Linked DNA regions of Homo sapiens. The protein of the gene in region 2 purifies or fractionates together with the protein of the main gene of each other region. This does not show direct contact. Each region holds a gene or a part of one and is shown on either strand. Other genes may lie near its edges.

Region 1 (3,753 bases), on a different chromosome or scaffold from region 2:
GGGGATGGGAAGAGTTATTATTTAATGAGTACAAAGTTTCAGTTTTATAAGATGAAAAAGTACTATAGAAGGATGGTGGTGATGGTTGCACAATAATGCGAATGTACTAAATGCGCTGAACTATATACTTGAAAATGATTAAAATGGTAAATTTTGTTATATATATTTTACAATTAAAAACAAAGAAAAACACCTTGAAGGAGGTTTCTATAAGAACAGTCTGTGTAATGTCTCTGCGGCACAATTTGTTAGAGTGTTCTGCTGTTAATGGAAAGGTTGGTGGTTGAAGAACAGTCTGTGTAAATAGTGGCAATGTCAGTGACTACATTTCATGTCACAGTCTAGCACAAATAAATGTTAGGTACACGAAGGGAGGGAAAACTGGGTGCCATAGATCTAGAAAGTCACCAGACAGGGAGAAGGCAAGTCAGGTGGGATCTATTAGGCTTACTGTAAGACTACTGATCCCAAATCCTTACCCAAGATGCTTTTGGGCTGGGACGATAAGGGAAGTAGGCTTGCACTCAGTCCACAACATCTACCCAGGGAACTGGGGAAGGAGGCAGTGCCTATAGTCCAGATATGAGGACAGAGCTGCTCCTGAGGAAAAGGAGAAACAGAGAGCCTAGTCCAGGGCACAAGGGTGAGTATGAGGGCCTTACCCAGGGAGGACGTAAGTGCAAAGTTCTCCAGCATCACATCGAAGTACAGGTGTTTCTGAGCCTCATCAAGGAGATCCCATTCCTCCCAGGAGAAGTACACGGCCACATCTTCAAAGGTCACACTTCCCTAGCATAATAGGGATTGATGAAACCATGAACAGTCTCAATTTGGAAGACTCAAAATCCATGTCCCCATACATTCTCCTCCCAAGATCCCCAAGTCAGAAGAGACACCAGACCTTGGTGTCATTGATCCCTGCTGTCTCTTCACATTCCCATTAGTCACTGTGTTCATTCTGTTTTCCACTCTGTATCCTGTCAACACTTGGGTTAGATAAATCTCCCTCCTCTGATCCCAAACTCCAACTTCCTCACAATAGATGCCAAACTTCACAGAAATAAAGGAAACCTGCAGTTCCCTGAACCAGCTCAGCCTCACCTCCAAGGAGTTCCAAAAGCTGGTACCTACCTGTTTCTATCATAAATTTTCACCCATCTTTCCATTGGCTGCTCCAAATGGAAACATTGGCCTGGACTCAGGGCCCTTAGCTCAGGGATTCTCCAGGGTTCCCAAACCAAACGCTGAGAGAATGGTAGGTGAGTCCCATGACACCACAAATCTAAAGAAAATATCTGTCTGGGGAGGGTGGAGGGACATTCCAGACCAGTGAGGGGCTGAGATACCTCCACTTACCTGTGTAAGTTTGAAAAGCACCTCTGTAGCTATGGGAACCTGTGGAAAGACGCAGGCCTCAGAGGAATGTGATCATGGCAGTGCTCCATGGGCACAGGCCTTCCCTGTACCCTTGCCCCGGCCCAGAGCCACGTAACTTTGGGTCGACTGTCTAACCTGTGCGCCTCGGTCCTTAGTGCTGCCTCTCACCAGTTGTGTGGCCTTGGAAAAATATTCAACCTCCCTCTGCCTCAACGTCCTCATCCATCTCTAAAGTCTTTTCTTCCACTGAACAGCCTGCAGAGGATTTTTCAAATTTAACTCAGATGGTGTCTCTCGTTTGCGCAAGCTCTCTATGGCTCCCACGGCCCTAAGAATAAAGGTAGATCTCTCTCAAACTTTGTTCCCTGCAGTAACAATGTGGAGCCCAGGTTCCTGAATGCCCCCTTCTCGGTTGCCCGTCCAAGCCCTGCACGCGCCGGTCCTGTCCCTTGTCCCCCTGCCCACCACATCGGATGTCAGAAATAGGGGCCCCACCCACGAGCCTCAGTGTCCCCGACCCTGTGCTACAGAGACGTGAGCTGGTGCCTCTCACTTGGGACTTAAGAATCTCGGCCGGGGGAGGCCCGGAGATCGCAGCGCTCACCGAAGCCGGGTCCCTCAGTGCGGTCGCCATCCGAGTCTGTGGGCGGAGCTGGACCGGGAGCTGCGGGCGACCCGGGGGGAACCCGAGCATCGCTATCCCCAGGCCGGCCTCGCGGGCGGCTCTGCCCCCGACCCTCAGACCTGACTCTCGCGCCTTCACGGTCCGTCACTTCGATCCCGATGCAGCGTACCAAAGCGGCTGACAGACAGAACGGACCTCCGGGAGGGCAGCCAAAATGACCGCTGCGAAGACGCCACAAGTCCCGCCCTGGGGGGGGCGGGGGTAGACCCACACGGAAATGCCCCTGTCTTGGATTTTCATTGGATCAAAGTACTGCCGCTCGACGCAAGGCTTTCTGGGTAATGTAGTCTCCCCCAGGCTGCGACGGAGGGCGCCTTGTGTGCAGACAGCTGGGAGCGCTAGGAAGCTGCGTCTGCTGCCTTCCAGGGCGACTGAGGGGCTTCGGTGTTTGAGGTCTTAAGTAGGTTGACACTTGAACAACACAGGTTTGAGCTGTGCGGGTCCATTTACACGTAGGCGTTTTTTTTCCCCAATAAACGTTACTTCGAGTGTGCTCCTTTTCCTGCCTCTTCCAGCTCCCCGACCTCTTGCCCCAGAGACAGCAAGACCTCATTCTCTTGCCCAGCATGAAGAACACAAGGATGAAGACCTTTATGATGATCCACTTCCACTTAATGATTAGTAAATGTATTTTCCCTTCCGTATTCTTTTATTTTCCTTTTTTTAATTGGGTGTAATGTCAACGAGCCTCTTACAATTTTCCTGATACCCTTTCTCTGGTCTGTTTTAGTACAAGTATAGTTCTTATACTAAAATATATATAATGCATATATCATACAAAATGCATATATCATATATATTATGCATATATCATGCATATATCATACAAAATGTGTTAATCGACTGGGAGTTTATGTAATTCATAAGGCTTCCGGGCAACTTCATAAGGCTTCCGGGCAACAGTTGGCTATTAGTAGTTAAGACCTAGGGGAGTCAAAAGTAATACAAGCATTTTCAATTCCGCAGGGGTCGGTATCCCTGACCCCTGCGTCGTTTAAGGGTCAGCTGTATATCAGTCTCTAGTGTAGAGGTTCACTTCAGTATTTAGACATCATTTCAGATTCCATGCAGCCCACCCCAGCAGATCTCCACTGGTAGTGGGAAGCGAAAAAACGTTATCTTATTGCTCTTCAAATGCATGCAGCCTGAAGTGTTAAAGTCACTTTTTGTAGGTTTTGTCAGGGACAAAAGACACCAGACAGGGCTACAATGGGAAGATAGTGGAGGGATAGTGGGCAGCCCTGAAGCCAACGGACAAGGGAAGTTCCCTGCTTCTGGTGCCCCCAGAAAACGCTCTCCTGCCTGCAAAGTCAGTTTTGTTCATAAAACATGAAGCTTTAATACATGAATGTTCATTTTCCTTGTATAATCAAAACATTTAATTTTTTTTTGAGACAGGGTCTCACTCTGTTGTCCAGGCTGGAGTACAGTGGAACAATCATAGCTCATTGCAGCCTCCACTTCCTGGGCTCAAGTGATCCTCCCACCTCAGCCTCTTGAGTAGCTGGCACTACAAGCACACCACCACACCCGGCTAGTTAAAAAAAAAATTATTGTAGGAATGGAGTCTCCCTATAGGGCCCAGGCTAGTCTCAAACTCCTAGGGCCATGCAATCTTCTTGCCTCAGCCTCCCAAACTGCTGAGATTACAAGCATGAGTCACCATGCCCAGACAAAAGTTTTTAATGCAT
Region 2 (3,653 bases):
TTTAAGGTTTTAGGTCTAACATTTAAGTCTTTAATCCATCTTGAATTAATTTTTGTATAAGGTGTAAGGAAGGGATCCAGTTTCAGCTTTCTACATCTGGCTAGCCAGTTTTCCCAGCACCATTTATTAAATAGGGAATCCTTTCCCCATTTCTTGTTTTTGTCAGGTTTGACAAAGAGCAGATGGTTATAGATATGTGGTATTATTTCTGAGGGCTCTGTTCTGTTCCATTGGTCTATATATCTTTTTTGGTACCAGTACTATACTGTTTTGGTTACTGTAGCCTTGTAGTATAGTTTGAAGTCAGGTAGCATGATGCCTCCAGCTTTGTTCTTTTGGCTTAGGATTGTCTTGGCAATGCAGGCTCTTTTTTTGGTTCCACATGAACTTTAAAGTAGCCTTTTCCAATTCTGTGAAGAAAGTCATTGGTAGCTCGATGGGGATGGCATTGAATCTATAAATTACCTTGGGCAGTATGGCCATTTTCATGATATTGATTCTTCCTATCCATGAGCATGGAATATTCTTCCATTTGTTTGTGTCCTCTTTTATTTAATTGAGCAGTGGTTTGTAGTTCTCCTTGAAGAGGTCCTTCACATCCCTTGTAAGTTGGATTCCTAGGTATTTTATTCTCTTTGAAGCAATTGTGAATGGGAGTTCACTCATGATTTGGCTCTCTGTTTGTCTGTTATTGGTGTATACGAATGCTTGTGATTTTTGCACATTGATTTGGTATCCTGAGACTTTGCTGAAGTTGCTTATCAGCTTAAGGAGATTTTGGCCTGAGATGATGGGGTTTTCTAAATATACAATCATATCATCTGCAAACAGGGACAATTTGACTTCCTTTTTTCCTAATTGAATACCCTTTATTTCTTTCTCCTGCCTGATTGCCCTGGCCAGAACTTCCAATATGTTGTTGAATAGGAGTGGTGAGAGAGGGCATCCCTGTCTTGTGCCAGTTTTCAAAGGGAATGCTTCCAGTTTTTGCCCATTCGGTAGGATATTGGCTGTGGGTTTGTCATAAATAGCTCTTACTATTTTGAGATACATTCCATCAATACCTAGTTTATTGAGAGTTTTTAGAATGAAGGGCTGTTGAACTTTTTCAAAGGCCTTTTCTGTGTCTATTAAGATAATCATGTGGTTTTTGTCTTTGGTTCTGTTTATATGATGGACTACGTTTATTGATTTGCATATGTTGAACCAGCCTTGCATCCCAGGGATGAAGCCAACTGGATCTTGGTGGATAAGCTTTTTGATGTGCTTCTGGATTCGGTTTGCCAGTATTTTATTGAGGATTTTGCATCAATGTTCATCAGGGATATTGGTCTAAAATTCTCTCTCTTTTTTTTCTTTGTTGTGTCTCTGCCAGGCTTTGGTATCAGGATGATGTTGGCCTCATAAAATGAGTTAGGGAGGATTCCCTCTTTTACTATTTATTGGAGTAGTTTCAGAAGAAATGGTACCAGCTCCCCTTTGTACCTCTGGTAGAATTCGGGTATGAATCCATCTGGTCCTGGACTTTTTTTGGTTGGTAGACTATTAATTATTGCCTCAATTTCAGAGCCTGTTATTGGTCTATTCAGGAATTCAACTTCTTCCTGATTTAGTCTTGGGATGGTGTATGTGTCCAGGAATTCATCCATTTCTTCTAGATTTTCTAGTTTATTTGCATAGAGATGTTTATAGTATTCTCTGAAGGTAGTTTGTATTTCTGTGGGATCAGTGGTGATATCCCCTTTATCATTTTTTTATTGCGTCTATTTGATTCTTCTCTCTTTTCTTCTTTATTAGTCTTGCTGCTGCCTCACAATTCTATCTCGGACTGCTGTACTAGCAGTGAGCAAGGCTCCATGGGCGTGAGACCCACCGAGCCTTGCATGGGATATAATCTCCTGGTGTTCCATTTGCTAAGACCATTGGAAAAGCACAGTATTAGGGCGGGAGTGTCCCGATTTTCCAGGTGCAATCTGTCATAGTTTCCCATGGCCAGGAAAGGGAATTGCCAGACCCCTTGTGCTTCCTGGGTGAGGTGATGCCCCGCCCCGCTTCGGCTCACACTCCATGGGCTGCACCCACTGTCCAACCAGTCCCAGTGAGATGAACCTCGTACCTCAGCTGGAAATGCAGAAGTCACCTGTCTTCTGTGTTGCTCACGCTGGGAGCTGTAGACTGCAGCTGTTCCTATTCAGCCATCTTGGAATGATCCTGTTGAATACCAGCTTAATTTAATAGTATACAAAACCCAGCCGTTTACAGCTCTGTTGCCCCCTTTATGCTATTATCACAAATTACATCTTTATACATTGTATACTCCTTAACGTAGATTTATCATTGTTGTTTTATGCATTTTTTCCTTTAAATTAGATAGTAAAAAGAGTTAAAAAAAACGTAAAACTCAATATTACTTGCTTTTGTAGCTACCTGTATAGTTTACCAGTGTTCTTATTTTTTTGTATAGCGTGGGTTACAGTGAGTGCCTTTTCAGTTTTTCTAAAGAATGCCCTTTGGCATTTCTTGAAGGGCAATTCTACTAGTGATCAGCTCCCTCAGTTTTTGTTTATCTGAGAATGTCTTGTTTTCGCTTTCATTCTTTGAAGTATAGTGTTGCTGGACATAGAGTTCTGTATATGTGTTGACAGATGTTTTTCTTTTTCTTTCAGCAATTTAAATATCACATTTCACTGCCTTCTAGCCTCTGTGGGTTCTTAAGAGAAATCAGCTGTTAGTCTTATTGTTTTTTTTTTGTTATGTAAAAAGTCAATTTTCCTGCTTTCAAGATTTTCTTTTTGTTTTTTGGCAATTTGACTATAATGTGTCTGATTGTGGATATCTTTTAGTTTATTCTATTTGGAGTTCATTGCACTTCTTGGATGTTTAGATTCATATTTTTTACCAAATGTATGAAGTTTTTTAGCCATCATTTTTTCAAATACTCTTTCTGTTTTTCCTCTCTTTCCTCTCACTTTGGAAGCCCCGTTATGTGTATATTAGTATGTTAGGATATAGGCTGTATATTAGAGTGTAGGCTCTATTATTGTATATAGTAGAGTGTAGGCGGCTGTCCTCACAGCCTCTACTGATCTGGGATGTGGAGGATGGTAGGCAGCCACTTTAAAATGTCACAGTATCCTCTTACTACAAAGCATCAGTTCTTTTCTTCACCAAGTCTTCCTCTCTGGTTATTGTAACAATTTTACTAGATTCCAGAGTTCTGCAAAAGTTTATTCTGACAGTTTTTGCCAGCTCATTAGTTGCTTTTGAGGAGGGATGTAAGTCTGGAGTACTCTTAGTTTTGGTGCCCAATAGTATCCATTCTGAGATTAAAAAATAAAAATAGCTATGATATAATTCTACTTGAAAGGTAGAAATTTTCCGAAGAGACATGAAGTCCTTGCCCACGCCTATGTCCTGAATGGTAATGCCTAGGTTTTCTTCTAGGGTTTTTATGGTTTTAGGTCTAACGTTTAAATCTTTAATCCATCTTGAATTGATTTTGTATAAGGTGTAAGGAAGGGATCCAGTTTCAGCTTTCTACATATGGCTAGCCAGTTTTCCCAGCACCATTTATTAAATAGGGAATCCTTTCCCCATTGCTTGTTTTTCTCAGGTTTGTCAAAGATCAGATAGTTGTAGATATGTGGTGTTAT
Region 3 (3,653 bases), on a different chromosome or scaffold from region 2:
CACCCTTCTCTCTAGGTCTTAGTTCTTAGATTTTCCTTCTGTAAAATGCATGTGATCTTATTTTCCCCTCCACAACTTTCCAGATGAACTAGACTGTGACCAAGAGGTCTATAAAATCAAAGCATCATGGAACAGGATCTTGTATCAGACCAAAGTGTGCCAGTTTTTAAAAATGTGCATCAAAATGGAAGTCTCAGAGACAGAGCCCTCTGGTGGAAAGTTCTAGTAGGTTAGGACAGTCCTGCCTGCAGACACCTTGGGCTTTACTGAGGGACTCAACTGAGAAAATGAGGAATGTTGCAGCTCATGATTCTTAGAAGAAGAAAGTGAAGCTTGTTTAAAATATGATTTAAAAAATCTGTAGAACACTGTAAACTACACAGGCTATGAGGGAATAGCCTGGTTGGGCCAGCTTGGAAATCGGGCACAGGCAGGAAGGGGCCTGTCTGGTTTGGGCCGTGTCCACAGAGAGCACTTCTTAGGTCCTGCCTGGAGAGAAGGAATGGCTGGGCTATATTTTCTTCCAGACTCATTATTTTTCTTCTGTTTGACTTTTCTCTGAATTTCCCTTGATTTGTATAAATTTTCTCAATAATTAGTGACAGTGTCTACTGATTGTAAAATGAAGCTTGAAGGCCAGGCGCAGTGGCTCATGCCTGTAATCCTAGAATTTTGGGAGGCCAAGGTGGGTGGATCACAAGGAGTTCGAGACCAGCCTGGCCAAGGTTGTGAAACCGCGTCTCTACTAAAAATACAAAAAAATTAGCCGGGCATGGTGGCACGTGCCTGTAGTCCCAGCTACTCAGGAAGCTGAGGCAACAGAATCACTTGAACCTGGGAGGTGGAGGTTGCAGTGAGCCGAGATCACGCCACTGCACTCCAGCCTGGGCGAGAGAGTGAGACTCCGTCTCAAAAAAAAAAAAAAAAAAAAAAGTTTGAAGAACAAAGACAATAAGAGGAAATATAATGAGTGGTCATAAATGTGGGCTCTGACAGTAGAGTGCCTGGGTCTGCATCCTGGTTTCTTAGTCATGTGACCTTAGGCAAGTTACTTTAACCTCGCTGTACCTCAGGTTGTCCATCTGTAAAATGGGGATAATAATAGTGCCTACCTTTTAAGGTTGATGTGGGGATTAAATGAGGTGTTGCTCATACAGGAATGTGCCTGTGCATGGCAAAGTTCGGGAAATTTTTTATAAGCTGTTCTAGGCCTGAAATCTTCAGAAGATGCTAATCTAAATTCATGAAATAAGCTTCTTACAACAGAAATGCTGCTAGTATTATGCAAAATTAATGTTGTATATCAAACTTTTAACTCTCATCCCTCCTTATTCAGATATATTTTGTTATAAGCAATGTTTGTTCCCCTCGTTATTATACCACAGTCTACTTACCTGATGCTATATCTGCCTCCCCAGTTAGACTGAGAGAACAGGGGATATACCTAAATAATAATAATAATAATAATAATAATAAATAATAATGGAGAGCTCCTTGAAGATAGGGAGCCTGTAAGAATCATTGAGGGCTTATTTTGTATACCAACTGCTAAACTAGATGCTTCATACATTGTTGTCAATACTCATGACAGCCTTGTAAAGTAGAAATTAATTCTTCCAGTTAACACTAAGGCTGACATATGAATACCTTGGCAAATCTGGAAAGCTGGGAAGACAGTATTTGAATTCAAGACTTCTTGTCACCAAGGGCCATGCACTTGTACTCTGCCATGTGGCCCTTTTTTACCTCCTGTGGATTCTCCCTACCTGGTACTTGGCCTTAGGTGTACACACACCTGGCACTTTGCTTGACACATAATAGGTGGACCACAAATATCTACTAAATGAATATTTGCATATAGTAATATTTTAAGGTACTAAAAGCAGCTCAAAGTAAATATATTAATATATTAATTCCATTGCTATCTGGATAACCACTCAACTTTCCTGCTGAAAATGCCCATTTAATTAAAGAAGGTTGGATAGAGCTCTCTATATGCATTTTGGACAGGCAGGGGTTTCAGGTCATAAACATTCTGATGAGTTAATATAAAATAAGAGAAACTGTAAATTTCCACTACTAAAAATCACAAAAATAACAGAAACAAAAGAAGAGATAAGAATTTGGGGAATTGTGCTGAACAATTTAGTGGTTAAAAAAAACAACTGTGCATGTTTAGACTTAAATAAGCCCCCATCCAAGTGTGAGGGGTCCAGTAATTTTTCAAAACATATGAAAGTGTTAATACATTTCGACAAAGGACCATTAAAAAAGTCCTGAATTCTGACTTGAGGGAGGAAAGTAATGACTAATACATTCTCTAGAGACTTGCAGACTTTGGGAATTCATAAAGGAATGGATGATAATTATTAACTGTTGCTGGCTGATTGCCCAGACAGTTCTCAACAGCCCTGTACAAGTCTCTGGGTTTGGGATGGATCAATTCTGAGACTGGAAAATGGCCAAATCTTTGCAAATGAGAAATATTTTTCTTATAAGTTCTTATTGTAGGCAAATAATTACATAGATTATTCATCAGAGAATTTTTAAATGCTCATAATCTCAACTCTTTCATTTACAACTTGTATTTCCAATAGTTTATGGGTCATCTCTGCATAGATGTCAGAAGTCACCTCAAGTTTAGCGTGTCCAAAATCTAACTCACAGGTCTGTTTCTGACCTCCCAACTTGCTTTCCTTGTGTTTTTCCTATGCTAATGATCCACCATAATCAAAATAATTAACATTTATCCAGTGCCTACTATGTACTATTCCCTGTCCTGTTTTACATTTACTCATTTAAAGTCCATAAGAAACATTAAATCTCATCTGCCTTCTGAAGAAGATACAACCATGCTCTCTTTTACAAAGTAGGAAACTGGGTCACAGAAAGGTGAAGTCTTTAAGGCTGAATCACAGTAGCTCATCCTAGTAAATAGAAAAGCCAGGATTCAACTCCAGGGGCTGGGTGCAGAACTGCTATTCTTCACTGCTTCACCAATCAGCAGCTACCCAAGGCAGAAAACTTTTTCATCCTTGGCTCCTTCATTCTCCCTGTCACCCCAGATCCCCTCTACATCTAGTCAGAGAATAGGTCCTGTCAATTCCAACTTCTCTATATGGCTCCTCTCAGGCATGTGCCCTTAATTGGCCTAATTCTCTAATACACCTTCCCTCTACATGCTCACTCCCTCAGATCATTGCTTTATCACGTGTTACCTGGGTTGCTATTACATAAAGAGCAATCTTTCTAAAATGAGGATCTTATCACTTCACTTCCACACTAAAATGTTTTTCCTGGGGAACCACACTCCTTAGCAATCTGACCCATCAGACCTTCCAGGCTGTCTCCTGCCTGCTCCCTAAGGCTCCAGCCACACAGAATTATCATGGGCCCACACACCCACCAAATCCTCCCATGCCTTTGCCCATGTTGTCTGGGATGCCCTTCTCTCCCTTCTGTCTACATCAAGCATCAGACTGAATATCCCTCTTGTGCGGCCTTCTAAAACCTCCCGTCCAAAGCGAAATATATTGCCCTCTATTTATACTTTTACAGCATTTGGCACACAAGTACAGAGTAGTAGCTTTTTATCACATTCTCTGATAATTATATAGATATGGTATTTCTTAGCTCTCTCTCCAACTGGCTAA

The links.
Region 1: the proteins of ZDHHC15 (region 2) and ZNF211 purify together in Homo sapiens (affinity purification with mass spectrometry, with the first as the bait; one large-scale study listed by BioGRID). This does not show direct contact.
Region 3: the proteins of ZDHHC15 (region 2) and CD84 purify together in Homo sapiens (affinity purification with mass spectrometry, with the first as the bait; one large-scale study listed by BioGRID). This does not show direct contact.

Annotation. Positions count from the first base shown.
Region 1 is NC_000019.10:57,631,665-57,635,417, reverse strand, and holds the start of ZNF211 (zinc finger protein 211), read right to left. Parts: upstream 2,251-3,753; 5' UTR 2,072-2,250; coding exon 1,982-2,071; intron 1,706-1,981; exon of another isoform or gene 1,513-1,705; intron 1,396-1,512; coding exon 1,357-1,395; intron 790-1,356; coding exon 663-789; intron 601-662; coding exon of another isoform or gene 480-600; intron 1-479.
Region 2 is NC_000023.11:75,512,976-75,516,628, reverse strand, and holds part of ZDHHC15 (palmitoyltransferase ZDHHC15), read left to right. Parts: intron 1-3,653. UniProt on the Homo sapiens protein: Palmitoyltransferase that catalyzes the addition of palmitate onto various protein substrates.
Region 3 is NC_000001.11:160,541,426-160,545,078, reverse strand, and holds part of CD84 (SLAM family member 5 isoform 2 precursor), read left to right. Parts: 3' UTR 1-3,653. UniProt on the Homo sapiens protein: Self-ligand receptor of the signaling lymphocytic activation molecule (SLAM) family.